2 separate regions of the Homo sapiens genome follow, and region 2 is linked to region 1. Evidence: fine-mapped expression QTL. A gene starts in region 1. The other region holds a variant in brackets. All regions are shown on one strand. Distances are from middle to middle.

The links. PIP is the estimated chance that this variant, and not a neighbour inherited with it, causes the effect.
Region 2: its variant is fine-mapped to the expression of SNX30-DT in naive CD8 T cells (Schmiedel 2018, PIP 0.95).

What each region holds. Positions count from the first base shown.
Region 1 is chr9:112,744,541-112,759,813 of GRCh38, reverse strand. SNX30-DT (SNX30 divergent transcript) reads left to right here and starts at 9,249. Exons shown (of 1, transcript NR_186503.1): 1 at 9,249-10,930. SNX30 (sorting nexin family member 30) reads right to left here and starts at 9,054. Exons shown (of 9, transcript NM_001012994.2): 1 at 8,657-9,054. The coding sequence starts at 8,812. RefSeq lists enhancers at 4,007-4,620, 5,073-5,162, 4,621-5,235, 7,366-8,285, 8,286-9,207 and 1 more and a silencer at 8,477-9,296.
Region 2 is chr9:113,356,510-113,371,782 of GRCh38, reverse strand. It overlaps BSPRY (B-box and SPRY domain containing), which reads right to left. Exons shown (of 6, transcript NM_017688.3): 3 at 11,046-11,276; 4 at 9,389-9,414; 5 at 3,400-3,524; 6 at 561-2,167. The coding sequence ends at 1,641. Among named protein-coding and RNA genes, the nearest start is that of HDHD3, 13 kb to the left of the region's middle. RefSeq lists enhancers at 1,364-1,864, 1,865-2,365. The variant ACACT/T (reference allele first, on the strand shown) is at 6,029.

The DNA.
Region 1 (15,273 bases):
GCTGTTACCAAGACTCTAAGTGGTGGGGCTGAGATTCAAATCCAGACAACATGATTCCAGCATGAACAACTTTTTTTTTTTTTTTTGAGATGGAGTCTTGCTCTGTCGCCAGGCTAGAGTGCAGTGGCGCAATCTCAGCTCACTGCAACCTCCACCTCCCCGGTTCAAGCGATTCTCCTGCCTCAGCCTCCCAAGTAGCTGGGACTACAGGTGTGCGCCACCATGCCCAGCTAACTTTTTGTATTTTTAGTAGAGACAGGGTTTCGCCATGTTGGCCAGGATGGTCTTGATCTCTTGACCTTGTGATCTGCCTGCCTCGGCCTCCCAAAGTGCTAGGATTACAAGCGTGAGCCACCATGCCTGGCCCGTGTGCACACCTTAAAACAGGAAGTGGAGGGGAAGCATTTCAAGCAGGAGGTTAACAACAGGATCAAGTGTTACCTACCAAGGGGTCAGGCAAAATAAGGACTATAAAGCATCTACTGGATTTAGCAATAATGAGATCACTGAGGACCCTGAAGAACAGAGTCAGAAACTAGGCAGCAGGAGGCTGAGGAGTATGTCAGAGGTCAGGAAGTGGAAGCAAGGGCCGCAAACCTTCTCTTCAGAAAAGTGTATTGTAAAGAGGAGTCACAAAATAGGGCACAAGACCAGGCACAGTGACTCAGGCCTATAATCCAAGCATTTTGGGAAGTTGAGGCAGGAAGATCACTTGAGGCCAGGAGTTCGAGACCAGCCTGGGCAACAAAGCAAGACCTTATCTCCACCCCCACAAAAAAAAGGCACCAGATGGAGGAGAAAAGAACATCATAGCAGAGCTTCCTTTACTCTTTCTCTCTGTGTGTGCACGTGCGCGCGTGTGTGTGTGTTTAATAGAGACAAGTTCTCACTATATTGCCCGGGCTGGTCTTAAACTCCTGGGCTCAAGCGATTGTGTGTGTATGTGTGTGTGTGTGTGTGTGTTTAACAGAGACAAGGTCTCACTATATTGCCCAGGCTGGTCTCAAACTCCTGGCCTCCAGCAATGTTCCTGCCTTGGCCTCCCAAAGTGCTGAGATTACAGGCAAGAGCCACCACGCCCAGCCACTCTTTCTGTGTTTTAAAAATCAGAGCAACTTGGCCAGGCATGGTGGCTCACAACTGTAACCTCAGCATTTTGAAAGGCTGATGCGGGCAGATCGCTTGAGCTCAGGAGTTCGAGACCAACCTGGCCAACATGGCGAAACCCCGTCTCTACCAAAAACACAAAAATTAGCCAGGCGTCAAGACCAGCCTGGCCAACATGGCGAAACCCCATCTCTACCAAAAACACAAAAATTAGCCAGGCATGGTGATGCGCGTCTGTGGTCCCAGCTACTCAGGAGGCTGAGGCAGGAGAATCTCTTGAGCCCAGGAGGCAGAGGTTGCAGCGAGCCAAGATCGTGCCACTGCACTCCAGTCTGGGTGACAAAGCCAGATACTGTCTCAAAAAAAAAAAGAGAGAGCGCAACTTGAGCATGTTTAAATATTGATGGGAGTGAGCTGGTTGAGAGGGAGTCCAAAGATACAGGGGTAAGTCAGGAGGCCAAACAGAGCAGGGTCTCCAAGAGGATGGGGGGTGGCAGGTGGGTCTACACCCTCAGTCAGCCTTAGACTCTCTCCTTGGAACAAGGGCCAGAAAGAAAACATGGCTATGGAGTCAGATCATTCTGAAATTTGAAGAAGGGAAGTTCCTTTCTGGTGGCTTCCATCTTCTCTAAGGTGGAAGGTGAGGCAATCAGCAGAAGGAAGGGTGGAGTAGAAGGGTAGAGGGTATGAGGAGCAGAGAAAAGTTTCAGATAAGCCACTGTGCAGACGGAGGGTCTGTGGAAAAGAAGGAGTGTCCAGGACCACTGAAGCCCCAGCTGTGGCTGAAACCTGTGAACTTACATTGGCAGCAACCCTTGAGCTTCCTGAGAACCCTGGTTGTAGATGAAAGACATGAACAAATGGAATGATCCAAGCTGGGTATAAAAAGAAGAGAGCAAGGGAACTGAATATAGAGGCAGGAGCAACCACGGAGATGGGCCACAGAATCTAAAGGAGGTAGGGGAATCCAAGAGGTCACAGAACAGAACAGGTATAGTCAGTTGTTAATGACTCAGAGACCTGGAAAGCCAGGACGGGAAAGCAAGACAAAATGATATACGCGGGGAAAAGGGAACTTTTGTACAACGCTGTTAGGAATGTAGATTGGTACAGCCATTATGGAAAACAGTATGGAGGTTTCTAAAGACATTAAAAATAGAACCACCATATGACCCAGCAATCCCTCTTCTGGGCACATACCCAAAGGAACTGAAATCAACACCTCATAAAGATATCTGCACTCCCACATTCACTGCAGCATTATTCACAATAGCCAAGATATAGAAACAACCTAAGCAGGCCTCAATGGACGAACAGATAGAGAAACTGTACTGTGTGTGTACACACAAAACTGAATATTATTCAGCCCCAGAAAAGAATGACATCTTGTCATTTGCCATAACGTGAATGAGCCTGAAGGAAATTATGCTAAGTGCAACAAGCCGGACACAGAAAGAAAAACACTGAGTGATCTCACTTACATATGGAATCTTTAAAAAAATTCAAATATATAGAGAAAGAACACAAAATAGTGGCTACCAAGGGCAGGTGGGAGAGGAAATGGGAAGATGTAGGTAAACGGATACAAAATAGCAGATATGGAGGAGTGTACAAGTCTGGAGATCTAATGTAGAACATGAGGACTAGAGTTATTAATAATAAAATTGTACTGTACTTGACAATCATGCTAAATGAGTCAATTTAGATGCTCTTGCCACAAAAACAAAATGAGTTAACTATGAGATGATGACTGTGTTCATTTGCTCCACTATAGTAAACTTTTACTATCTATGTGTATCCCATAACATCAAGTTGTATACCTTAAATAAACACAATAAAATGTGATAATATCCAGTGGCACTATTTCAGAGCTGGAATGCTTCTAGGTATTACAACGCAGGGTGCGGCCGTGGGAGAGAGCAGATGAACTGTTAAAAAGGTGAAGGAGCCGAGCGCAGTGGCTCACGCCTGTGATCCCAGCACTTTCAGAGGCCGAGGCAGGCGGATCACCTGAGGTCAGGAGTTCGAGACCAGCCTGGCCAATATGGTGAAACCCCGTCTCTACTAAAAATACAAAAATTAGCTGGGCGTGGTGGTGGGCACCTGTAGTCCCAGCTACTCAGGAGGCTGAGGCAGGAAAATCGCTTGAACCCTGGAGGCAGAGGTTACAGTGAGCTGAGATCGCAGTGAGCTGAGATCGTGCCATTGCACCACAGCCTGGGCAACAGGGCAAGACTCCATCCCAAAAAAAAAAAAAAAAAAAAAAAAAAAGGATGATTACAGATAAGGAGGTCAAGAAACTGGTAATTTTGGAGAGTTGGACAGATCAGCCATGTGAATGATTAAAGCCCCGTGGTGAGGACATGATTTCAGAAGACAGTAAGTTGGGGTCTAAAGATTTAATGAATGAGAGTGAGAAGGTGTGAAGTTGGAAAATGACAAAGAAAACAGTATTGGAAGGTCTGTAGTGGATATTTGTTTCCTGCTTGTCTAACATTTCTTGATTTTGCTCTGGCAACCACCTCCTCCCTTCCCAGGCACAGAGGGGGCTTCCAAAATATTTGTAATATTCTGTATCTTAATCTGGGGGTAGGAACATTTTATTAGTCTTTAAACTGTACAGATAACTTTTACTCTTTATATACACACATTGTTATAAACTTCATGTATATATTCCCCAATTTTAAAAAAATTCCTTTCCTCATTCCAAAGATAAGTACCTGATTCAAGTCTGCGCAATCAGAATCAGAGACTGGTTTAGGCGCCTGACCCAATTTAGACCAATGAGACACCAGCCCAGAGCTTTGGCCAGAACTATCAGGAAAGGAGTGCTCTCCTTCTGCTGGAGCTGGGAAGCTTGTTTATAGAACATATCCCTTCACTGGCATGAGAACAAGGCTGACACAGAAGAAAGCAGAGCCAAGAGATGGAAAGTGACAGATCCCCGACATCACTGGAATACCTTGCTCCAGCCATCCCTGAAGCCAAAATACCTGGGCCTTTTCAGCAACGTGAGCCAGTAGATTTTTATTTTCCTCTATCTAGTTTGCATTCAGCTCATGTCTTTTTAACTAATAAAGAATCCTAACTAATTCAGGGGAATGCTCAAGGTAGTCTCAATTGAACAGCCTATGTGATCCTTTTCAATATATAATCAAACTATGCCCCCCTCCTGCTCAAGACCCTGAAATGTCCCCTGCCCATGTTAACTTCCCACCCCATGGCCCTAGCAATAAAGGCCAAAGTCCTCAGGGTGACCGGCCACATTCAATATAATCTGACCCCTCCCTTCTCTGCCCCCAGCCTTTAACTCTCCAATGCTCACTCTACCTGGCCACACTGGCCTCTAGGCTGCTCCCCGACACACCAGCCCTGTGCCTTCCGGCCTCTGCTTCAGGCAGTCCCTCCCCGGACAGTCTTCTTCAGATACTCACCCACTAACTCCCTCACCTCCTTCCAGTCTGCTCAAATATCAAGTACTCAACAAGGCCTGCCAAATCCTCTTCCTCGCGGCCAGTTCTCCTTTTTCCTCCTTCCATGGCATTTATGGTGTAATACAGTACAAACTTGCTGAAATGTATCCAGTGAGGGCAGGGTTTTCAGCTAATTTATTCAAGTTCCTAGAACAGTGCCTGGCTCATAGTAGGCCCTCAAATATGTATCAAATGAACAAAAAGAATGACAGGAGCCTCAAAGGAGCAGAGCCTGGTTTGTAAAAGGTGATGGAGGAAAAGCCTTCTCTATTTTGAAGACTTCAGAGGACGTCTAAGTGACCTAAGGAGGCAGGAAGTAGATGAAGAGTTCAGAGAAGAGATTGAGGATGTGGGAGGAGGTGTTAGCCACACAATGGGGCTTAAGAATCCAGTATTAAGTTTTGGGAGGGGTACAGAAGTTAGAGGCTGAGTCAGAGGAGAAGCAGCCTGGAGCAATTTACAGATGAAAGTTAAAAAAGGAGAGTAAGGCTAAGTGATGTATTTACATTTTAGATGGAGATAGCCATATAAGGTCCAGTGAGGCTCACGCCTGTAATCCCAGAACTTTGGGAGGCAGAGGTGGGCAGATCATCTGAGGTCAGAAGTTCGAGACCAGCCAGGCTAACATGGTAAAACCCCATCACTACTAAAAATAAAAAAATTAGCCAGGTGTGGTGGCAGTCACCTGTAATCTCAGCTACTCAGGAGGCTGAGGCAGGAGAATCACATGAACCCAGGAGGGAAAGGTTGCAGTGAGACTGCACCACTGCACTCTAGCCTAGGCAACAGAGTGAGACTCCATCTCAAAAAAAAAAAAAAAAAAAAAAGGCCCAGTGAGTTTAGCAGGCATCAAAAGAATTAGTCCTGGCAACCTCTGGTAGATAGAAAGGATTCCTCCTTTGGGAGCCTATGAAGGGAGGCATCACACCATGATTTGAACAATTTGAGAAATTGGTGGAGAGTCCATCATATTCAGTCTTTCTCTTCTACCCAAGCACTACAGAGTTCATTCACAAGCGTCAGCTGGACCAAGACACCAGGCTACCCTGTTCATCGCACCATCTTGGGCCCTCAGAAAGCAATTCCCCTTTGCATAATAACCCTGTACTATGACCAGCCTGTCAAACCTTCATTCCCCTGGCCCAGAACTGACGCAGAATCCCTGTCATCCAGGATCACAACCCCAGTATCTAACAAGACAAAACTGGCTTCTTTTCAAAGACAGACCATAGCACTGAACTGTCCTAACACCCCTCTGATGACCCTCATGCTGCTGAGGTAGGAGAAAGCCAGCCACAGGGAAGGCTTCCTTCTTCTGGCTCTGACTCACCTCTGTGGCTTGCTAGCTTCTCTCTACAGAAATTTCTTCAGAGTTATGAGACCATACGTGTATGCCAAGATTCAAGGAAAATGTTACTCCTAGTCAGAGAAAGAAATTACAATGCTTAGCCTCTAAGGAAAAGTGGCTTACTATAAATCAGGCCCTTGAGAATGGTGTCATTTAGATGCTCCCCACAGCTGTTAGGAGATTCATTAAATATTCAATAATTAGGCCAGGCACAGTGGCTCATGTTTGTAATCCCAGCACTTTGGGAGGCCGAGGAGGGCAGATCACTTGAAGCCAGGAGTTCGAGACTAGCCTGGCCAACATGGCGAAACCTCGTCTCTACTAAAAATACACAAATTACCTGGTCAAGGTAGCACACGCCTGTAATCACAGCTATACGGGAGCTGAGACACGAGAATCACTTTGACCAGGGAGGTGGAGGTTGCAGTGAGTCAGGATCAGGCCACTGCGCTCCAGCCTGGGTGACAGAGTAAGTCTCTGCTCAAAAAAATACATATATATTCAATAATTAATAATGCCTTCAAGACTCTCCCTCCTACACAGAACAGACCCTTTAAAGGAAGCCATCGGTAATTAGACTTGAGACTGACTTCTTCACCACTAACCAGATCTTGGTGGTACGGGGAATTTGTCTTCCAAGTGCTTATTAGTAAAATGCTCATACTTCTGAGTCAGGTATCATCCATGAGTGAATCGTTAGGTAAATATTTTAAATGGCTATCTGTAGTAGCCAGTCTCCAAGATGGCCCAATGATCCCCACCTCTTGGTATACACACCCTGATATTCACACCCTCTCCCCACATTGTACCAGTGTCAATCTGTGTGACCAACAGAATACAGCAGAGGCATGTCATTTCCAAGATAAGTTATACAAGACTGGCTAGAGTCTTGAGCTCTCTTGGATCACTTGCTCTGGGGGGAAAAACCAGTTGCCACATCAAACAGCCCTATGGAGAGTAACTAAGACCTGCCAACAGCCATGTGAGTGAGCTTAGAAGTGGATCCTCCCCTAATCCAGCCTTCAGATGACTGCAGCCCAAGCCAACAACTTGACTGCAACCTCAAGAAAGGCCTAATTCAGAACCACTCAGATTGTCCCACAGACACTATTTCCAGGTGATAAGTTTTGGGGTAATTTGCTACACAGCAATAGATAATTAATTCAGTGTCCCACACAGAACTGAGAAGGAAATGAGGTTTAACCCCCAGTTCCTACACTATTTTAAGACCAATTTTTGTCGATAAGAAAGCAAATTTATTCAGTTATTCAACATTTTTTGGAGACAGGGTCTCACTCTCTTGCCCAGGCTGGAGTACAGCGGTGCAATCATAGCTCACTGCAGCCTTGAACTCCCAGGCTCAAGCAATCCTCCCGCCTCAGCCTCCTGAGTAGCCTGGATTACAGGTGCATGCCACCATGCTGTGTGCGTATGTGGAAACGGGGTCTCGATATGTTGCCCAGGCTGGTCTCAAACTTTTGGTTCAGAGCAATCATCCCACTTCAGCCTCCCAAAGTGCTGGTATTACAGGTGTGAGCCACTGCACCTGGCCTCCATTAGCTTTTTTAATTTTCCTGTTCCTAATGCTTTGGAACTTCACTCCCTGCTTTCACAAACCCTCTGCAGAAGGTACATCAAGTCGCACTCTCTAGTGATTTTAAGTGCTCAGTGACCTTCTGACTGCAAGGAGGGCAGGTTATATTTTCTCATACTCCTTTTTCACTGTACCACATGGTGTCCCCTCTAACGGGAGAAGAAAGTTAGGTCCCCTGCTCCCATTAATATTGGGACAAGGGGGAATTCATTTAGTATTTTACTAGGGAGAGAAAATCTTGATCACAAGACCTGAGAACAATTCTAATTTCTGCAGTTAGTGACTAAGTGACGGCAGGAGCGGGGATACAATCACTGCTCAAGTCTCCTTCACAGCTGAAATGGCCATGGGGGTAGGGAGGAGGTCGTCCCTTACCCCTGCCTGGACTCTGCTGTCTCTCCAAGCAGCAGGAGGGTTGTGCTGCTCTAAGAAAATCTGGAGCCTCCCTCCGTACAAAGAAGGTCAAAGGGCGAGCTTTCTTTCCATCAACCACAAAACCAGCCTCTGCCAAACCTAAACAGAGTGGTAGGCCGTCGGAGGTGAATGGAGCCCCAGACAGAAAACCACAACGAGGCTCTCCTCCCGCCGCCGGCTGGGGTCTGAGTCAGGTGACTCCTCAGGACAAACAGCAAACCTAAACAAAGATCACTCCCCACATGACTGACTAGGGGGAAGAAGACTCTCGCTGTAAGCCCAGGGCTGCCCGGTCCCAGCACGGAAAGCCAGGAACTCCTGCTTTCTGTGCAGTCTCGGAAACTGGAGGAGCTACAAGTTATGCAGCAGCTCAGCCTGCAGGGATGCACCTGGAGGAACTCGGAACCCCATCCGAGGACACAGGCGCCCTGCCCTGAACACACGCCTCCCGCTCCAACACGCAGGCTGGACCCCTCCCCACCAGCTGTCACCGGTGCTTGCGACCAGTCACAGGCAGCGAAGCCTGTCCCTCTGCGGCTGCGACCCCGCGGAGGCGGCAGAGGAGACGCTTCGCCGAGGGCTCCGGGGCCAGGACACGCCCGTCCCCCGGGAAGGGGCGGCAGGGTGGGCGCGGCCCCAGGCCCACGAAGGCTCCGGATCCATCATCCCCCCCACGGGGAGCGAAATAAGCCTCCCACTCCCCGGCCCCAGGCGCCCCACCTTGTCACCGAAGCTGCGGGCCATCAGCAGGTCCGGGCTGGGCGTGCTGTCACCACCCACGGCCTCCTCGCTGCTGGAGCCGGCCAGCGGGTGCGGCATGTCGCGCAGGGAGTGGGGCCCCGTGGACGGCAGGGCCTTGGGGGGCCCGCCCGCCATGGCGCGCACCGCTCGGGACGCGCCGCCGCCGCTTCCTCCTGCTGCCCGCCGCGGCGAGCTCCCCGAGCACCCCGGGCCGAGCCCCGCTCGGCCGCCGCTTAACCCGAGGCCTTGCACCGGCCGTGCTGGGGGCCGCCGCCACCCGCCGGCTGGTCTCTGCCGGCGCTCAGACGCTCCGCTCCGCGCCGCGCGCCCCCGCTCCGCGCCCGAGCCCGCCGCGGGTCCGCTGGCAGCACGGCCGCGGCGCCCAGCCCACACAGCCACACCGCCCACCCGCTCCGGCCCCGCCCCCGAGGCGCCGCGGCCGCCCGGGAGGGGGCGGGGAGGGCGGGGAAGGGGCACGTGGGGAAGGAAGGACGGAGGGAGGGAGGGAGGAGGCGCGGCCCCGCCCCCGCCCGGCAGGAAGTGCGCCCTGGGCCTCTGCGGCTGTCCTCCCAGTGTCCAACGTTGCCTCGCGGAGGCCGCCGTGCGGAGCAAATGTCTAACGGAAATCAGAGGTGGAAAAGAGGTTGGAGGAGCCTGTTCCGTTCCACCCGCGTTTACTGATGCGCCCACCAGCAGCCACGCTTGGGGCTGGGGGCTTTGAGGACACGCACGTGAGTCAGGGTCTTCTGGCCTCTAAGGCACGCGCAGGAAGAACCCTAGATAGACGGAATTACGACCCATATCGGAAGAATAGCATAAAGGGCGACAAGGCTCAAATGAGCTAGAGGACATCGGGTGGGGAACCTGGAAGGGACTTCAAAGAGGCGGTGTGGGGAGTCTTCAGGCTCACTCTGAGGTCCCCATTGTGGCTTGCTTCTGCAGCTGAGCTGGATTTGTGTAAAGTCAAACCTCAGAACAGCGAGCATGAGTAGAGAGTCTCAAATGATATGCGACTCTTCAACTCACACTTTGGCCGAAGAGACTTTTGAAAGAACCATGAGGTTCAAGTTATTCTTCATGCATTTGTGCTTCCTTTCCAGGCCTTGGGCTGAGCTGATTCTCAGCTTTATTTGCTGGCGTGGTGCAAATAGTCAAGGTGTTACTTCCAGCCCTTTGGGGTGTAGGTTCACCTCCTTTTTCCACCTTACCTGTCCCTAGATCTTCTGTTTCCAAGGCCAAGTCTTTAAAGGGTTTTCAGTCCCTCTAGCAAAGTAATGGGTAGGGAGGCTCATCGTGAGGGACCACATTTTCCCTACCCATTCCAAACTCAAAGGTTTGCCTAGCCTTACCTGCTAAAAGGTGATGACAGATGTTGACTCTGGGATTCACTAAGGCCTCTACCACAGTTTTCTCTAGAAACAAATAGAAGAGAATGCAGAGGGTTGAAATCTACCCAAAATATCAGTCAGAGACTCTGAGCTTCAAAGACCTTCCCCTATTTCCCCCAATGTAATTTATATAGGGTTGGACCCTTAGTCCTCAAGCTATCATCTTTATCTCCTCCACATAAGCCTGCCTTGGCTGGGAAAAGTAGCATTCAAAGGGCACTGGGAACAATTTTAAATGCTGCATCTAAGGAATGCCAAGTTCTGGTCCTCTTGGAGTTGGATTAAAATTGTTAACACTTTCACATTCAAGGGCTGCTTACAACTACTACAGACCCTATTATCTGTTCTTCTGAATTAGCATGAAAATGAATAGCACAATATAACTAGAAATGAGTATTTCTAGAAATGAGTATATACATCTATAGATGTATAACATCGGTTTTTCTTATTGAATGGTGCTACTTATTTTAACAACCAGGCTGCCTTAAATATAATGGACATCCGTATGGATTAAGACTCTATACAAGCTTTCTCTTTAGTACACCAGGGGAAAGTGAAAAAAGAACCACATTTGAATTCGGCTTTGTCACTACAAGTGGGTGACCATGAGCAAGTTACTAACCTCAGTGAACCTGTTCCTAACCTAAAAAGGAGGAGAATGGAGAGCAGGTAATAATACCTTATGAGATGGTTGTGAGAGTTATATAGCATTCTTTATGTCATAGTCCTAGCAAAGTGCTGGCATAAAATAGGTGCTCCCTAAATGTTAATTACCTACCTTCCTTTCCCTTTCTGTCAGATTTTCTCTACTATTCTTATGAAATAATAAAGAGTTTTTGTAATTAAATATGCTTTACTATTCTGAGTAGGGTCTGGTTGAATATACATATATATACACACACATACACACCAGGTAGGGTGCCTCACACCTGTAATCCCAGCACTTTGGGAGGCCAAGGTGGGAGGATCACTTGAGCCCATAAGTTCAAGACCAGCTTGGGCAACATAGTGAGAGCCCCATCTCTATAAAAAATGTAAAAATTAGTCCGGCATGGTGGCACATACCTGTAGTCCCAGCTACCCAAGAGGCTGAGGTGGAAGGATTGCTTGAGCCTGGGAGGTTGAGGGTGCAATGAGCTGAGATTGCACCACTGTACTTCAGCCTGGGCAACAGAAGGAGACCTTGTCTCAAAATAAAAAAAAATATATATATATATACATATATATGTGTGTGTACATATATATGTGTGTATATGTGTGTGTGTGTGTGTGTGTGTGTATTGACCTCCAAAGTCCTCCATTTGCTCAGTTTAGATTGGAGTACCACTTTTCTATGCTCCCACCAAAAAAAGGACCCAGACCCAGAGTTCCTAAAAGGCCATATGAAATAGTTGATTACAGTTTATTTATTTATTTTCCAGTTTCCTGGTTGGTCGATAGCAGCTGGCCACAATATCCAGTGGGTAGTCATCAAAACTAAAGAAAGTGAATTTGTATGGAAAGTATTTTGGTAGAAAGTTTCCACGATGAAATTTAGCCCAGCCCTGCCCATTCATATTCACCATTTCCTGTGGTATTTCAGTGTTCCTTGTGGTGGGAAATTGTCACTGAAATAATATAAGTGTCCCAGAGCATGTGACTTTGCTTCTACTAAAAGGTTTTGTTTTTTTTTTTTTTTTTTCTTGGAGACAGGGCCTTGCTCTGTCGCCCAGGCTGGAGTGCAGTGGCGCAATCTCAGCTCACTGCAACCTCCGCCTCCCAGGTTCAAGCGATTCTCCTGCCTCAGCCTCCACAGTAGCTGGGATTACAGGTGTGTGCCACCATGCCCGGCTAATTTTTGTATTTTTAGTAGAGACAGGGTTTCACCATGTTGTCCAGGCTGGTCTCAAACTCATGACCTCAAGTGATCTGCCTGCCTTGGCCTCCCAAAGTGCTGGGATTACAGGCTACTAAAAGTTTTAAAAGCAGCATGGTGGTAAGGAGGAAACGTGTAACGTTTCTCCATCAGAGCAGAAGGCTGTGGTGTTTGTTGGAACTTATGGAGGGAAGCTTGGATTTCTAGGGTTGAGCTCTGAGGAAGATAGTAGATGTATGTGTGTGCATGAGGGGCGAGGGAGGTCCCCAATGCCACCAGAACCCAAGAACACAGCATGGAGCCCTCCCAATTCATAAGGAATCTTAGACACTTAGGCTGGCACCTTTCAGGAGACAGGGCTTTGGGCCCCAGAATTTAGTACGCTTACCAAACAAATCCTATCGACCTCACTAGCAAGCGTATTGGGGCTGCCTGTGAGCACCCAGACCTCAGAAACAAAGCAGTCTCAATGCATCATTCGCTCATTCTTTCCCCTGGTACAGCATGTGCTTAGGCCTTCTTCATGTTTGTGTTAGCCGCTTATCCTCTGGTGGTTTTTAGTACAATCATAGCTTTATTCTATATGGCATCCCAAGCCCTGCCTCAGAATAACACCACCACTTCTGAAGTGGACGGCTGGTGAGGACAAAGGACGTTTTCAGAGAGCATTCAGGATGACATGTCGCAAGCCACAGAGGGCTGTATCAAACAAGGGGGGCAAGTGAGAAGGCACAATCCCCAACAGAGACAAAATTGTGTGGACAATTTAATTCAGCCAATGATGTCCCAGGAAAGAAACAAGGTCCACTTGAGTCCAGGATCTGAACAGTTTTGCTAACAAGAAATTGGAACTTGCTACTGAACCAGCAGAGGGGCTTGTGGGTGAATGATAGCATCATTTTATCTCTCCATATAGAAGAGCTCCTGGCTTGCAAAGCATGGAGACCCTGATGCAGTGAGTTATACAGTACAGTCATGGAGTTAGTGTTCCAAATCTCAAACTTTGGGTGCCTAACAATCAATTGTGAGCTTGTAAAAATGCAAACTTCTGGGCCCCACATCAAGAGATTCTGCTTCTGGAGTGAGGCCTGGAATAATTTTTAATTTAAATTAATTTTTAATTTAAAAAGTGTTAATCTCCTAGGTGATGCTTACGCTGATGCTGGTCTATAGACTATATTTTGAGAAACACTGTTCTCTTAGCTCCTTCCATTTCTCTTGCTCGCTCTCTCTCTTTTAACCTAGCATCAATCCATCAAGATCCTTCCATTTTTCTTTTCGTTGTTTTTTTTTTTTTTTTTTGAGACAGAGTCTCACTGTGTCACCCAGGTCGGAGTGCAGTGGTGCAATCTCGGCTCACTGCAACCTCCACCTCCTAGGTTCAAGCAATTCACCTGCCTCAGCTTCCGGAGTAGCTGGGATTACAGGCGCACACCAGCATGCCCAGCTAATTTTTGTGTTTTTAGTAGAGATGGTGTTTCGCCATGTTGGCCAGGCTGGTCTAAACTCCTGACCTCAGGTGATCCGCCTACTTTGGCCTCCCAAAGTGCCGGGATTACAGGTGTGAACCACCGTGCCAGCCTTTCTCTCTCTCTTTTAACCTAGCATGAATCCATCCAAATCCTTCCATTTTTCTTTTCTTTTTTTTTTCTTTTTTTTTGAGACAGAGTCTCGCCCTGTCGCCCAGGCTGGAGTGCAGTGGTGCAATCTCAGCTCACTGTCGCCACTGCCTCCTGGGTTCAAGCGATTCTCCTGCCTCAGCCTCCCGAGTAGCTGGGATTATAGGCGCGCACCACCACGCCCAGCTAATTTTTGTATATTTAGTAAAGACAGGGTTTCACCATGTTGGCCAGGCTTGTCTTGAACTCCTGACCTCAAGTGATCTGCCCACTTTGGCCTCCCAAAGTGCTGGGATTACAGGCGTGAGCCACCACTCCCAGCCAAGATCCTTCCATTTTTCTAAACTATAAATTGACATTCCAAACCTTTAAGTGCTTACTTTAAATAAATATCCTGTTTGAAAACTTGCTTAGAAAGCAATTTTCTATTAGAAAATTACATTACAAGGTCCTTTTGCTCCTAAACTTTTATGATTATTTTAGTGAGCATCTACCAGGCGCTTAAAATATAAGGGAAGATTGAGGTGATGGATATCCCATTTACCCTGATGTGTTATTATGCATTGTATACCTGTATCAAAGTATTTCATGTACCCCATAAATATATATGCCTACTATGTGCCCACAAAAAATATTAAATTAAAAAAAAATTTTAAGAAAAGAGCTCAGATGAACTAACCTATTTGTTGATAATTTTTTTTTATTGTTGTTATTGTTGTTGTTTTTAAACGGAGTCTCGCTCTGTCACCCAGGCTGGAGTGCAGTGGCGCGATCTCAGCTCACTGCAAGCTCCACCTCTTGGGTTCATGCCATTCTCCTGCCTCAGCCTCCTGAGTAGCTGAGACTACAGGCACCCACCACCGCACCCGGCTAATTTTGTTTTTGTATTTTTAGTAGAGACGGGGTTTCACCGTGTTAGCCAGGATGGTCTTGATCTCCTGACCTCGTGATCCACCTGCCTCGACCTCCCAAAGTGCTGGGATTACAGGCGTGAGCCACCGTGCCCGGCCAATAGTTTCATTTCATAAGTCTGGTCATGAAGTAGATCACAGAGGAGTGGATACTTTCCAGAGCCCTCAAAACCTTGGCCTACCCTGAAGGCTCCTAGTAGCTGGGCCACATCTGGCTATAGAAACACCTTTCACTGCCATCACTGAAGGATACGTGCTACCTGGCTTTCTTTACAAGCAGGCACAGGTGTATGGAGTTTGGGCATGGATGTGTATTCCTTTGTGAGGGCTACCCATTAGAGAGGTTGGGCTGGAGAAGATATGGAACTGACAAGTACTGGAACCACGGGCACTGAGTCTTATTAACAGTGATTCTTTGGATAGAATGGAAAACCTACTTACTGGCTGTGTGCCTCCATGAGAGTGTTTGATTCCATCACGAGGAGTGATCCTTAAAAGGCATCTGAAGGCTGGGTGCGGTGGCTCATGCCTGTAATCCCAACACTTTGAGAGGCCAAGGCGGGTGGATCACCTGAGGTCAGGAGTTTGAGACTGGCCTGACCAACATAGTGAAACCCCATCACCACTGAAAATACAAAAATTAGCCAGGTGAGGTGGCACATGCCTGTAATCCCAGCTACACGGGAGGCTGAGGCACGAGAATTGCTTGAACCCGGGAGGTGGAGGTTGCAGTGAGCCCAGATTGCGCCATTTCACTCCAGACTGGGAAACAAGGGTGAAACTCCATCTTAAAAAAAAAAAAAAAGGCATCTGGAACATGGAC
Region 2 (15,273 bases), 610 kb before region 1:
TCTCGGCTCACTGCAACCTCCGCCTCCCAGGTTCAAGCAATTCTCCTGCCTCAGTATCCCGAGTGGCTGAGATCACAGGTGTGCACCATTATGCCCAGCTAATTTTTTGTATTTTTAGTAGAGATGGGGTTTCACCACATTGGCCAGGCTGGTCTCAAACTCCTGACCTCAGGTGATCCACCTGCCTCAGCATCCCTTTGAGACTCTGTCTCAAAAAAAAAATTAATAAACAGTGGTTTTCAAACTGCTCTGCAGCTCCCAAAGAAAGTGGGGAGGGCTCTGCCTTTCATCTTCTTTGGACGCAGGAGCCTAAAGTTGTAGGTAAGATTACTTTTGAAGAGAGTTCCTGGACAAAAGTTTGAAGACCACTGTTCTAGGGTGAACTCCTCATGGAGACAAACATAAAGGGACTTGCCTTGGGTCTTGGTAATGTCTCCAGGCTCTTTCCGCTACACTGAGCTGCGACCCACTTATTTCCGAGAATGCAATAAGGGTATGAAGACAGGCCAGCGTACAGTATACACCCAATTATCAACAAAGAACATGGAATAAATCTTCAATGCTTTTAAGACCTTTAATAATGCCCACGTGCCCTAAGGTTGGCCCTCTTAACTCCCTCAGCTCTTTCTGGCTTTAAGCCATCACCCCAGGTGTGCAGTTTATGTCAGAGGGGGCCATCAGGTAGGGAAACTTATCAGCTGCTCTAAGAGAAAAGGCCGTCCCTGCTATTATCAGTGGGCACAGGCTGGAGCTCAGCCAGCAGGGGCTACAGTCGGGTTACCTGGAGACATGATCCCCTGGTCCTCTGAGGGCCTAGGCAGGACATGGGGGAGGACACGGTCCCCCGGGACAGAGTCCTCTGGCCAGGAGCAGCCTTTCAGGTTGCTCTTGTGTGCTAGAAAAAAATATTTTCTCTATGTGCCATGTCATGAAAAAGACAAAAGCACTGAGTTAATGGGATGTGGAAACTTTAGCCACAGGCTTCTCTGCCTGTGAAGAGAGCATTTCTGCATGTGAACAGCTGGAGCAGGAGGCTGAATGGCAGTGCTTCTCCAGAGACCACAACATCCACCCAGTCACCTGTCCACCTACATTCACCTATCCATCTATCCATCCACTCACCTGCCAAATATTTATTGCATGCTCACTATGCACCAGGCACCATGCTAGATGCCAGAGACAAAGTGAAGACACCCTCAGAGGGGCAGATGCATGGTGGATTTGGGAGACTAAGGCCCAGGGAGTAGTAGGTTCCCCACAGGTACCCAGCACTCAAAGCAGCAATCTCCAACCCTTTGAATGCAAGGACTTTTTTGCTTATCTGTGGTGGCAGATATCACAAAAATTATACACAGACTTTTTTTTTTTTTTTAGCTCATCAGCTATCGTTAGTGTATTTTATGTGGCCCAAGAAAATTCTTCTTCAAATGTGGCCCAGGGAAGCCAAAAGTTTGGACACCTGTGATTTACAGGTTATGCCTAGATCTGAAACAGATCCCCATCCCTCCTAAAGCTGCCCACTGGTTATGGGCCCTGTTTCTCTTAGAAACACCACACACATCATTTGGGAAAAGCACACTGAGTAGAAACATGGCCTGAAAGGGTGGTGGGCGGTGGACCTGGCTTCCTGTGGCCAGAGGTCAGCGGACGATAGAAATGGTCTGATCGGCCACAGCAAAGACTGGGAAGAGGGGCCCCGGGAAGGACACATGATGGGCACAGAGCACTGTGCCGGAGGCTGGCTCATAGAAGAGCAGCTCCTGAACCTGCAAGTCCAGCACTACACCCAGCTGGGCTGGGCCCCGCAGCAGCCCCAGGGGCTCGTGCTGCCCATTGTGTGAGAAACGAAACTCCTGATCATAGCGAGAGAAGACCCAGGAGAAGGCATTGTGGCCCAGACGGCAGTCACTGCCAGAACCCTTGCGGGGCAGGTGGCCTGAAGCCACGCCCACCTTATAGGCACAACTGTTCTGGACATTCACCATCCAGGCATGGAGCCCATTCTGGAAGGAGGTGGCAGCCAGGGCATTGGGCCAGTGGTCGAAGCGCTCCGGGCCATCTGCACAGGCCTTTGACTTCTTGGTGCTGAAGGTCAGGGTCTTTCGATCATCTGACAATTGCAGGAAGGGGCTGACTGTCCTCTCATCGATCCGTATGTCCTCTGTGCCTGCCAGAAAGAATTCTCAGAGTTGCCGAGGGCCCACCCCTGCCCTAACCTGGTCCTGCCAGGTAGCAAAAGGTTCCTCACCACTCACTAGCATGGTGACCTCATATAAGCCATTTACTCTCTCTGAGCCTTGTCTGCAAAACGGGGGTCAAAATAGGACTTCTCACTGGGTGATCACGAGAATTAAACAGAATCATACATGTAAAGTGCCCAGCATGTAAGTGCTCTATAAACTGTAGCCTTCATAACAATAGTTACTATCAGTCAAGACCCTCAACTGTAAACTCTGATAGAAATAAGGCCCAGAGAGAAAAAGGGAGTTGCCCAAGTTTACACACTGACTTGGTGGGAGGGGCAAAATGAAGACAAAACATTTTGTTCCTATACGTAGCACTGATTATACTCTTTCTACTTGGTCATATCTGTGGCCTCCAGATTGGACGTGTCCTAGAAACACAGCCTCTGGGAGCTAGGAAGCATGAGATAAGCAATTTCTAGCAAATATCTAAACTGCTGGTAAATCAGGCATCATTTGATACCAGAATCTAGAGTAGAGAAGCTACAGCTTCTACCAAAATTGTAAGGATAATACGAGGAGGGAGGATTAAAACTGAAAAAAAAAAAAAATCAGTCTATTAACCTAACTGTTCCACGAATTGTGAAAGACTACCATTGGGAGAATGGAAGCTTCCATCTAACTTGGAGGAGGCCTGCTCTGGAGAACCTCTGTGCTAAATGGGAATTCCTGGAGGCAGAAGACCATGTCAGTTTACCTCTGTGGCCCCAGCATGTGGCACAGGGTGGGGCCCACAGTTGGCCTGAGTCAGTGTGTGTAAAGTGAATAAGTGAGGCAAATCAGGCAGTTTGATTCTTGGTCCAGATGTTCTTCAGTTGGCCATCAATTTTATCTTCTTAAAGAGAAACCCCAGGTTTCCAATAAATAATACTGGGCTGCCCTAGTAGGTCAGGATATAAGGAAGACATGACTTATAGGAATGAGATTTATCTTTGACCCAACCACAGAACATGTTAGTCCGGAAATGGGAAGGACTTGGCCCAGCTGCCCCAGGCCTGTCTGGAACCTTGACCCTACTGACCAGCCTGCATCCAGCATGACTTGTTTAAGCTATCATCTCAGAAGCACGGGTCCCCATTGTGAACCAGGAGTGAACCCCAGACAGACAGACAGAAGCCCAGTTGTCCTAATGGTCCTGGGCTCTACTGCTCCTAACCTGAGAGAGACCCAAGAACCGCCGTTGCCCAGAGTTGGGTCAGTAGTGGGCTCCGAGTGCACTTCTCATTAAAGTTTAACATTTCCGACTCCTGGGGATCCAAAATGCCCTCTGCTTCTTCGGTCCTTATATGGGGAAAAACAGAGACAGAGATTCAGGATGGTTCTGGAAATATATCTGGATCAATATGGGGTGAAGAGAAGAACAGAAGTAAAATCTCCTATCAGGCGATACCAAGATTGGCAGCTAGGGCCAGGTGCAGTGGCTCACCCCTGTGACCCTAGCACTTTGGAAGGCCTGATGTGGGAGAGGATCACTTGAGCCCAGGAGTTTGAGACCAGCATGGGCAACATAATAAGACTCCATCTCTACAAAAAATTTAAAAATTAGCTGGGTGTGGTGGCATGCACCTGTAGTCCCAGCTACCTGGGAGGCTGAGGTGGGAAGATTGCTTAAGCCCAGGAGTTCGAGGCTGCAGTGAGCCAAGATCATGCCACTGCACTCCAGCCTGGGTGACAGAGTGAGACCCTGTCTCAAAAAAAAAAAAAAGAGTGGCATCCAGGCCCCACACAGGTGCTTGGGCCAAAAGGGAAGGTGGCCATTTCCCCTGTGCCCCCCAGAAGCCTTAATTTTAGCAAAGCTGGTGGACAGTTTATAGGAAGATGTGTTCTTGGTGCCAGTATTAGAAATTGAAGGTGGTGTGCTCTGCAGAGGAAGCAACTTGCCAGAGTCCCTCAGTAAGTTAATGGCAGAGCTGGGGCTAAGACCTCCTGGGCCTCTGGAACCCCTGCACGATAGTCTTTCTACTCCAACATCTTGCCCTTGCCTGGAAAATATCTCACCTCCCTCTCAGACCTGTTGGGGCAGTCATGTTTCCCTGGGTTTTGTCAGAAGGTACAGCCACTCCTCTACTTTAAAAATGCAAACACCTGAGGGGTCCACAGAGGAAAGGGCCATCAGTTATCACCCCAGCCACAAATGAATCATGGCACTGTGTGCTCTCAATAACTCTCCCCTCAGCTCACAATGGGGGCTGGGTTTTGCTGGAGAGGTATTTTGGGACAATATGATGCCTAGGAGTTGAAAACTGCCATGTATCAGCAGTGAGGGCCTGGGTTTGCTGTTTTCTCTACAGAATCATACCTCAACTTTGCTATAACCTGGGAGGTAGTGGTTATCTGATTTAACAGGACAGAACAGATTCAGAGCTAAAAAGGGGAGCTAGATTCAAGTCATGCCTCCATGCAAAAATAGAACAAAACTGGGATGAAGCCCAGGCAGCATTCAACATAATTTTTTCCTTGACCTGAAGTGAAATCTCAAAGGAATATAGGGCAAAGTAGGGGTTTACCATGGAGCTTTGCAGCCTTTTGACCTAGGTGCTGAGAAAGACCTTTCCTACTGCCTCCAATCCTGAAGATGGCGTTGAGATCAGGCAGTGGTTCCGAGTACACACACTCTCTCCCCATATCTCATGGCTCTGTGCATAAATGGAGTGGGCACAGGGGTGGGGCATGTGCCCTGATGGCTCTTTGCAAGACTGTCACTGTTCTGTCTTGGGAGGTATAAGGTGAACAGAACCTTAGAAATGCTGGGAGCAAGCTCTAGTAACAAAGGCTCTTTGTGGTCAGGACAACAGAGGGTCTATTGCCATCTTCTCAGAACGCAGGAGCTCCCGCCAACAGGTGGGGAAGAAAGAGGAGCTGATGTCAGCGGTGCTAAGCTGTCATCCCAGGGCAAATGTGAGGCTGAACATAGTGAAGTCTACAGCGAACCACCCGGGCTAGCTGCCCTATGGTACCGAAGACAAAACTCATGGCCCCAAAGGGGTGGAAATGAAAAAGGGCCTGAACACAGCAGGCCCTGGCCAGGATCAGAATGCCCAGATGGTGCGGCAGGATCTGCTGCAGTGTCCAGTCAGAGTTGAGCCCAGCTACAAGCGTGGAAACACCAGAGCCAACAAGGCACTTCTCAGATAAGTGAGTTTCCGGCTAGATGGGGCTTCACAACTTTTGAACACTACTTTGAGAGTATATTCGCTCAGCCTGGGGGCATAAAGAACTACAGACAAATCTGGAACTCTATGGATAGGCCTTTCAATAGTAGTATGGGCTTAGCAATGCTCGGACAACTTTGTATGTATTGTAGGACTGAGCAAATACTGATGTTGTTGGGGGCTGGAGTCCTCACTGTAAAATAACAAAAGGTACAAATGTAGAAAGGGAGAGGGCAAAGGAAAAACCTTGAGGTGTTACATTGGAATTAGAATCTGTGATACAGGCTGGGCATGGTGGCTTATGCCTGTAATCCCAGCACTTTGGGAGACTGAGGTGGAAGGATCACTTGAGGTCAAGAGTTCGAGACCAGCCTGGCTAATATGGTGAAACCTTGTCTCCACTAAAATTACAAAAATTAGCTGGGTGTGGTGACACATGCCTGTAATCCCAGCTACTTGGCAGGCTGAGGCAGGAGAATCGCTTGGACCCAGGAGGTGGAAGTTGCAGTGAGGCAAGATTGCGCCACTGCACTCCAGCCTAAGTGACAGAGTAAGACTCCATCTCAAAAAAAAAAAAAAAAAAAAGAAGCTGTGACACAAACTCATGCATCAAACAGCTACACACACACACAC[ACACT/T]CTCTCTCTCTCTCTCTTTCTCTTTCTCCCTTCCTAGTTCCATCTGCTATATGCTGAGTGAGCTGAGTGAGGCCTAGAAGCAAGGTCACTGAGTACCCTTAATGCTCAGATCTTGGTTTCTAAATATCATTCTCCACTAAAAACAACCAGGTGCCCTGGAGAAGCAGCTGATTCAGGGGCAGGAAAAGCACAAGTTGAGCTGGGGTTTTCTTCTTGTGCTTCTTGTGAAAGAGAGCAAGAAAGTGCTCAAAGAATGATGGGAACTTTTCAAAAGGACACAGGGTCCAGCTTGAAAGGGCTTCTACAGGCCAAATCTGGGACAGTCTGAATGTCAAAATTAGTAATAACAGTGACAGATTATAATGCACTGAATAAAATAAGAATCCATCAGTCTGTATTAATATTGAATAAGGGAACAAACAAGCAAATAAAAGGAATAATTCAGGCAGGAGTGACCAATGGATGCTAAAACTATTGGGAGAAAGTCTGAAGGGACACAGGATATATATGCAGAAAGTGTCTCCTCACAGACTGCTTATTAATTATAAAAGGAAAAGCATAACTTTATAATGAGGAAACCTGGCAGACATCCAAGTGCTCAAAATTGACATCCTTGATAACGGACAAAGGGACATCATGTGCCCCCAGATATGATGAACTGAAGACAGATCACTTATGAAGTATTCCTGCTAAAAATGTATAACTTGAATCTAATCATAAGATAACATCAGATAAACCCAACTGAAGGAGATCCTATAAAACTGGCCTTGACTCTTTAAAAATGTTAAAAAAAAAAAAAAAAACAAGCTAAGGAATAATTCTAGACTTAAAAAGACAGCTGAATTAGGAAAACAAAATAAAACACTATTAAGAACTTTTGCACAATTGGCAACAGTTGGATATGGACTGTGTATTAGATTATAGTATTATATCAATGTTAAATTTCCTTAATTTACACTGGGGTGATGTAAGGGAATGTCTTTGTTTCTAGGAGAAACATGCTGAAGTATCTTGAAAGAAAAATTCATGTTTTCTGGAATTTACCCTCAAATATACCATAAAAAAATAAGTTTCTAACATATATACTAGATAGATAAATAGGAAGACAGAGAGAACGAGCGACAATGAATGTGGCAAAATGTCAACAATTGATATTTTCTACGTGAAGCTCGTTATACTACCTTTGCAACTTTTTTCTAAGTTTGAAATCATTTGAATAAATGAATCATTTGAATAAAAAATTAAAGATCAATTAAAAAATCAGATCAGCTTGATATTAAGGACACACTGTATTAAAGGAAGATGACAAAGATAAAGGAGATAGAGAAGATGGGCAGAAGTGTGAAAAGATTGTACAAGGGGAGAAGTGGGAACAAGCCAAGCATGCGTTAGGAGACAGTAAAATAAATATGATCCGTCTACACTGCAATATTTCACAAACTTTCAAAAAAGTGACGTGAATGTAAATGTACTGATGTGGAAAGATGTCCCAGATAGCCTAACAAGTTTCACAACAACAGGTATAAAATGATCCTATCTGTGTTTTGATTTTTTTGTTTTTTTTGAGACAGGGTTTCACTCCCATCACCCAGTCTGGAGTGCAGTGGCAGGCTCTCAGCTCACTATAACCTCCGCCTCCTGGGCTCAAGTGATCCTCTTGCCTCAGCTTCCCCAGTAACTGAGATTACAGGGGTACGCTACCGCACCTAGCTAATTTTTGTATTTTTAATAGGTTTCTTTCGCCATATTGGCCAGGCTGGTTGTGAACTCCTGACCTCAAGCGATCTGCCTGCCTAGGCCTCCCTAAGTGATGGGATTACAGGCGTGAGTCATCACGCCCAGCTTTTTTTTTTTTTTTTTTTTTTTTTTTTTTTGAGGTGGAGTCTCACTCTGTCACCCAGGCTGGAGTGCAGTGGCGCATCTCAGCTCACTGCAACCTCCGCCTCCTGGGTTCAAGAGATTCTCCTGCCTCAGCCTCCTGAGTAGCTGGGACTACAGGCACACACCACCACACCTAATTTTTGTATTTTTAGTAGAGACAGGATTTCACTATCTTGGCCCAGGCTGGTTTTGAACTCCTGACCTCAAGTGATCCACCTTCCTCGGCCTCCCAAAGTGCTGGGATTATAGGCATGAGCCACCGGGCCTAAAAAACATTTTTAAGACAACAACCAAAAAACCGCCACATACCCTCCTATGACTATATATAAGTCCACAAATGCACATCTGTTCAAACCCATCACTGTCAGGGAATAGGATTGGGAAAGGGTAATGCAGACTCATTTTTCTTTTTCTTTTTTCTTTTTCTTTGAGACAGGGTCTTACTCTGTTGCCCAGGCTGAGTGCAGTGGTGTGAGCACAGCTCACTGTAGCCTCAACCACCCAGGTTCAAGTGATGCTCCTGTCTCAGCCTTCTGAGAAGCTGGGACTATAGGCTCTCAGCACGAAGCATGGCTAATTTTTTTTTTGTAGATATCAGGTCTTATTGTATTGCCCAGGCTGGTCTCAAACTCCTAGCTTCAAGCTACCATCCTGCCTTGGCCTCCCAAAGTGCTGGAATTACAGGTGTAAGACACCATGCCCAGCAAGATTCATTTTTCATTTTAAATGGCTTTATATTGGTGGATTTTTTTTCTCTCATGCACATGTATTACTATTGAAACTTCAATATAAAAATAAATAATTTATACCCATTGAAATACAGAAAAATAAGTAAATAAATAAGAAGAATGGACTGTGTTCCCTAAGTATAACTCTGAAATTTCACACAGAAGGTTTGTGAATTACTCTGCCTGGCAAATTATGTCCTCTTGGCCACTTCCTCAGGCCCTCAGCTCTTTTAGAACTCAGGCAGGACCTGGTGAAATTCTTTTATTACTGAAGAGCTAAAATGCAAAATCTGAATGGTAATGCAGACTTAAGTTTCAAAGATTCCTCCATCAGGGAAAGGAGAAGTGAGGCAGAGGCAACAGTACCGGGGCAGGTGTTAGATGGGTCCAACCCCTGGTTCCAGGCTTAGGGAGATCCCTTCCCCTTTTAGAATCTCAACATTTTCATCTGCACATGGAGGTGGTAAAACCCTCCAACAGGGTGACTACCTTTTTACAGAGGAAGTTTAAGAAAGCAGTGGCAAGCCTTGGATTACTAAGTATTCCACTGCCTTTCCATGTGTTTTAAAGCAGTTCTCTAAGCCAAGGGCAGAGACATTCCCTGTCCACAGAGCCAGGCTCCAGAAAAGCCACTCAGCTGCACACCCTGTGCATTCTCCCAAGAGCAGCAGGGCTGAAGGCAGTGGAGTGTGAAGAGGTCTAAGGGTCTCCAAGACTACCCAGTCAAATCACGGGGTCTATACTCACCTCTCGAAAATCTCTTGCTCCTTCTGCTGTGAGAAAAGAAAACAAAGTCAAGCTTGGCACCAGATACCCAGCAGGGAGTCAATGCTAAGACAGATTTAACTACCAGAAAGGGCTCCATGTGGACTCTAGAATAAAAACTTCTAGTCTTTAAGACCAGCATAAAGCTTTCTAGGCTATTCTACACACACACACACACACACACACACACACACACACACACCCATAACACATGCTCAGAATGAATCACTCTACCCCATGTCCCAGGGCATCCTGGATTCCCCTCAACTCCACTCAGGACCATCGCCTGTTCACCCAACAGCATCTCCCATGAAGACTGTTAGCTCCTGGACGGCTGCGACTCTTTCTGAGTCTTCTATTGTGACTGTCCCAGTGTCTGTGAAAGAGCATGCTCTGTCCATGGATGCTGTGACTAAATGAATGCACAGTTTCGAGCAGTCATAGAAACTGCCCTACTTGCAGAGGCAGTGGGACAGCTCAGGTGTTCCACATTCTCTTTCCTCTGCTTGTGACTCAGATGCCACCTTCTCCCCTCAAAACTGCAGGCAGCTGCCTATCTATATAAAATACTTTGAAAGGCTATGTACCAAATATGAATCATGGTGATTTCTGGGTGGTAGGATTAAGGATGAGCTCTGTGTTTTCATATCGAAGACCTTGTCAGCTCCCCGGAGCACAGTGTTCTCTCTACATGCTCCTGAACTCTTTCCACCTCCTCACTTCCTTTGACACAGCTAGTTTTCTTATCTTTCAGGCATCAGCTTCTAAGTCGCTTCATCCGGGAACCTTCCCTGACCCCTCTTTCCCCTAGCCTGGATTGTCCGTCCCTAGCATGGGTGAGTTCCTCTACCATAGCACATATCCTTCCATATCCTAATTGTCAGCCAGTGTATTTGTCTCCTTTGTAAGGCTGGGAGCAGCTGACAGCTGCATCTCGTTACTCTGCCCCATAGCACAGTGCTTCACATATAATAGGCACTCAGTATACAATGACTCACTATCAAAAGAAAACTATTATCAGTGCCAAAGAAACATAGTTTTATTCCCTTGCCTCATGTCAGAGAAGAAATTATTCAATGATACCTGTTAGAGCACAGTAAGGCAGACTTTATTCAAGACCTCATTGCAATGGGGTCTTGCAATGGGAGAGAGACTGGGTTCAACTCTGAATACAGCGTGGGCAGGTAGGAATTTATAGCTAAGGAGCAGGGTTGGGGGTTAGTGGATGGAAAATTACTAAGAGGAAACATTGGGGGTAAGGGGGATTATGGCTAAACCTACCTAACAGGATTCTTGCTGCAGACAGAACACAGTGATCAGACATCACCTAGGGGATGGTGGTGGATGAGGAACCTGATCAGATATCAAGGATGATCAGATATCAAGGATGGGGGTTTCTGGCTACACTGACTTAGCAGGGTTATTTTGCAAAAACTGGATTTTATAATGAAGTGCACAGATGGGCCTGGGAGAAGGCTCAGAAGCCTGACTAAAGTTTGGCCAAGCAAAGAATCTTTGTCACTCATCCCTGCTCCAAATTCTCATTTCCACCCTCCTCATACCGACAAACATTCTCGATATTTTCAGGCTTTTGGGGAGCCTGGCCAACTGGTCATGCCCTCACCCTTGCCTGACTTACAATCAGCTGGAGGTCATCCAGGTGAGTAAGCATGCCCACCAGGCCAGTGCGGATGGTGTCAAGTTTCTGCAGCGCCTCGGCCCAGTGCACCCGCTGTGTCAGGATGCTCTGGTGGGCCCGCTCCTCTTCGCCATGCACCTGTTCCAGTAACCGCTGCTCCTCGCTCTCGCAAAGACTCCTCACCAGACTCAACCGCTGGATAACCAGTTCCCTCGCTGCACTGGCCATGCTCTAATGAGGGATAAAATGAGGAGTTGGGTGGTCTGTGCAAAGCCCCGGTCAGGATTTAAGAGGGTTTAGGCTCAGTGGAAAGGAGTGTTGAGATTGATTAGCAATGTCTGCCACGGGCTTAGTAATGGAAATAATAGCATGTAAGCCTTTTACTTTGACATCTCTGCCCCAAGACTTCCCAAATATGGTTTAGGGTAAAGAAATTTGAGATGCAGACACATAGGCCATATCTCAGGGAGCCATGATCACATAATGGAAGACCTGGGCAGGACTTAGAGCCCAACTAGAATACTCTGCTTAATCACAGTTGGGAATACAAGGTCAAAGGATCAAGGTCAGAGAATCACAGAATTGCAGAGCAGAGGGCCTAAAAAGTCATCCCCATCAGCAGGATCCATACCAGCAGTGGTACAGTTGATATTTCACCATGTTTGAGGGAAAAAACTGATGACTTCCTAAAACTGTCCATTTCAACTGGTTATGTGGTAGAATTTTTATCTGCCACAGAAGAGGCCTGAAATCAATTCTCAGACAATTAACAGGTGTCTTCTTGTAATTCTTAGCACAGTGCCTGGCATGCAGTAGGTACTCAAATATTGACTGAATGGGAAATTTTTTTTTTTAAATTTTTTTTAATAGAGATGGAGTTTCACCATGTTGCCCAAGCTGGTCTCAAACTCCTAGGCTCAATAAATAAGCCCAACTCAGCCCCACAAAGCGCTGGGATTATAGGCATGAGCCACTGTGCCCACCCAGGAAATTTTTTCTGACTTAGTAAAAGATCTCTTCATAGTGCTCACATGGCAATTCAGTAGCAAAGCTGAGACTCGAACCCAATTCTCTTGACTCTCAGTCCAGTCCCATTCCCCTACACCAGATGCCACCTGGCAACCAATCCTTCCCAAAGGCACCTGTTGCATAAGGCAGCTGCACTTGTACTCTTGCCAGACAAGTGGGAATAGAACTGCCTCCTTCATGTCAGAAAGTCAGGGACAGCCAGCAGCTTTCCCTATGCCCTGTCCCTTAAGACCTGCTTTGTACAGTGCACAGGGCAATCATTCCTATTTTACAGAAAACACTGAGACCCACAGTTTGCCTTACAGGGAGGAGAGACTAGCTAAGTGAATGGCAAGTGAACCCAGAAGGTAAGACTCCAAGTTTATAGTGTGCTCTTGAGGCAACATAACATAGTGGTCAGGAAATTAAGCTTTAGAGGTAGTGTGTAGATTTAAATCTTAACTGCTCCGCTCATTAGCTGTGGAACTTAGAACATATTCCTTATCTTCCCTATGCCTCTATTTTCTAATCTGTAAAATGAGGATAATAATAGTACCTACCTCATAAGGCTATAGTGAGGGTTAAATGTGTTAATATATATAAAGTAAGTAGAACAAAGCCTGCTACATTATGTGTTCAATAACATTCATTCACTATTGCTCTTCTTTATCTTTTTTTTTTCTTTTCTTTTCTTTTCTTTAAGAGACACAGTCTTGCTCTGATGCCCAGGCTGAAATGCAGTGGCACAATCATAGCTCACTGCAGCTTTGAACTCCTGGGCTCAAGCGATCCTCCTGCCTCAGTCTTCCAAAGTGCTGGGATTACAGTCATGAGCAACTGCATCCAGCCCACGATTATTCTCCTGTTTATCCCACTTTAATGCCTTACCCACAGGGTGAGCCCCTGAAACCATGGTTGTACTGTGTGATCCTGGATCAAAACAGATCCTCACCCAAGATGAATCAGATTCTGATTCCTGCCTAAAAGACTCTAGTCATTCTCAACAAGTTTGTTGAGCCATTCCCAGAAAAGGAGAGCAAAGAAAAGAAAAACTTCCCTTTCCAAACACATGACAGAGAGTAGACAAACCAAAAACCCTCTCAGAATAAAGTAGAGAAATGCTGGAAAAATAGCCCAAGCATCCTTTTAAAAGTGTGGTTGTGGCTGGACACGGTGGCTCATACCTGTAATCCCAGCACTTTGGGAGGCTGAGGCAGGTGGATCACCCAAGGTCAGGAGTTTAAGACCAACCTGGCCAATAAGGTGAAACCCCGCCTCTACTAAAATACAAAAATTAGCTGGGCCTGGTGGTGGGAGCCTGTAATCCCAGTTACTCAGGAGGCTGAGGCAGGAGAATTGCTTGAAGCTGGGAGGTGGAGGCTGCAGTGAGCTGAGATCGCACCACTGCACTCCAGCCTGGGTGACAGGGCAAGACTCTGTCTCAAAAAAGAAAAAAAAAGAGGTTTTTATTTTTTGTTTTTTGAGACAGGGTCTCGCTCTGTCACCCAGGCTAGAATGCAGTGATGCAATCATAGCTCACTGCAGCCTCAAACTCCTAGGCTCAAGTGATCCTCTCACCTCACCCTCCCAAATAGTTGGGACTATAGGCCCATGCCATCATGTCTGGATAATTTTTTAATTTTTTGTAGAGATAGGGTCTTGCTATATTGCCCAAAACAGTCTCGAACTCCTGGGTTCAAGTGATCCTCCTGGCCTTGGCCTCCCAAAGTGCTGGGATTATAGGCATGAGCTACCATGCTCAGCCCAATGAATAAGCTTAATAGAGATATATATATATATATATATATATATATATATATATATATATATATATATATATATAGAACTCTACAGGCCAGGCACAGTACCGGGTCATGCTGGTAATCCAAGCAGTTTGGGAGGCCAAGGCAGCAGGATCACTTGAGCCCAGGAGTTCAAGGCTGCAGTGAGCTATGATTGCGCCACTGCATTTCAGCCTGGGCAATGGAGTGAGACTTTGTCTAAAAAAAGAGAAAGAAATAATAATGAAATTAAGACAAAGATACAAAAGAGTAGACCAAAAATACTAGAAGCTGGTTCTAAAGACTAACAGTCAAACCTGTGGCAACTTTGATCAAAACTAAGAACAACTTTATCTTAAGTAAACCCTTAAGAAAAAAGAGTTCTGTTTTCCAATCCATTGAATAAGGCTCACATAACCTTGATACCAAATCTGATGAGGACTGTACAAGAAATGAAATTCATAGACTAATCTCACTCCTGAGCATACAAGCAAAAATCCTAAAACAAAAATAAAAAATGCTTTACTGAGATTAGCAATCCAAATTCAGAAATTTTGTATTAATAATACAAGGGGATAGGAAAGGGTACATGTGGCTATAAAAGGGTAGCACAAGGAGTCCTAGTGATGGAACTGTTCTGTATTTTAATTGTGGTAGTAATCACATGAATCTATGCCTGTGATAAGATAGTTAAATAAATATACACCATTTGAGAGCAGTGATCTCTCCCACCTCCTTGGAACCCATGCTGGGACACTCTGCTCTCTTAGTTTACTTCCGTTTCATTAGCTGATTTCTTGGTCCCCGTTCGCTGGTTCCTTCTGTCTTCTCAATAGGAGGTGAAGTGCCCTAGGGCTCAGTCTTTGGACCGCTGCTCTTTCGTGTCTACACTCATTCACTTAGTGATGTCATCCTCTCCCACGGCTTTCAATACTATTTATACACTGATAAATCCCAAATTTATATCTCCAACCCAGCCCTCTCCCAACTCATATATGCAGCTACCTACTCAGCACCTTCACTTGGATGTCAAATAGGTATCTCAAACATAACATGCCCACAACAACTTAGCATGCCTGCTCTCCCCCACTCCCCTCCCTGCCTCCGCCAACCATCACTCCACATGCAGTCCTTCCCCCACCCAGTTCATGGCTGCTCCATCCTGCCAGTTGCTCAAATAAAAAAACTTCAGCATTATCCTGACACCTCCCCTCTTTCTTTCATAGCCTACATCTAGTCCATCAGCAAATCCTGTTGCCTCTTCAAAATATATGCAGAATCTAGCCACTTCTCACTAGCTTTGCCACCATTGCTTGGGTCCAGACCACACTTGTTTCCCACCTGGATTATTACAATGGCTTCCTAACTGGTCTCCCTGCTTTAACCTTTGCCGCCTATAATCACTTCTAAACATAGCAGCCAAAGTGTTTCTTTCTTTT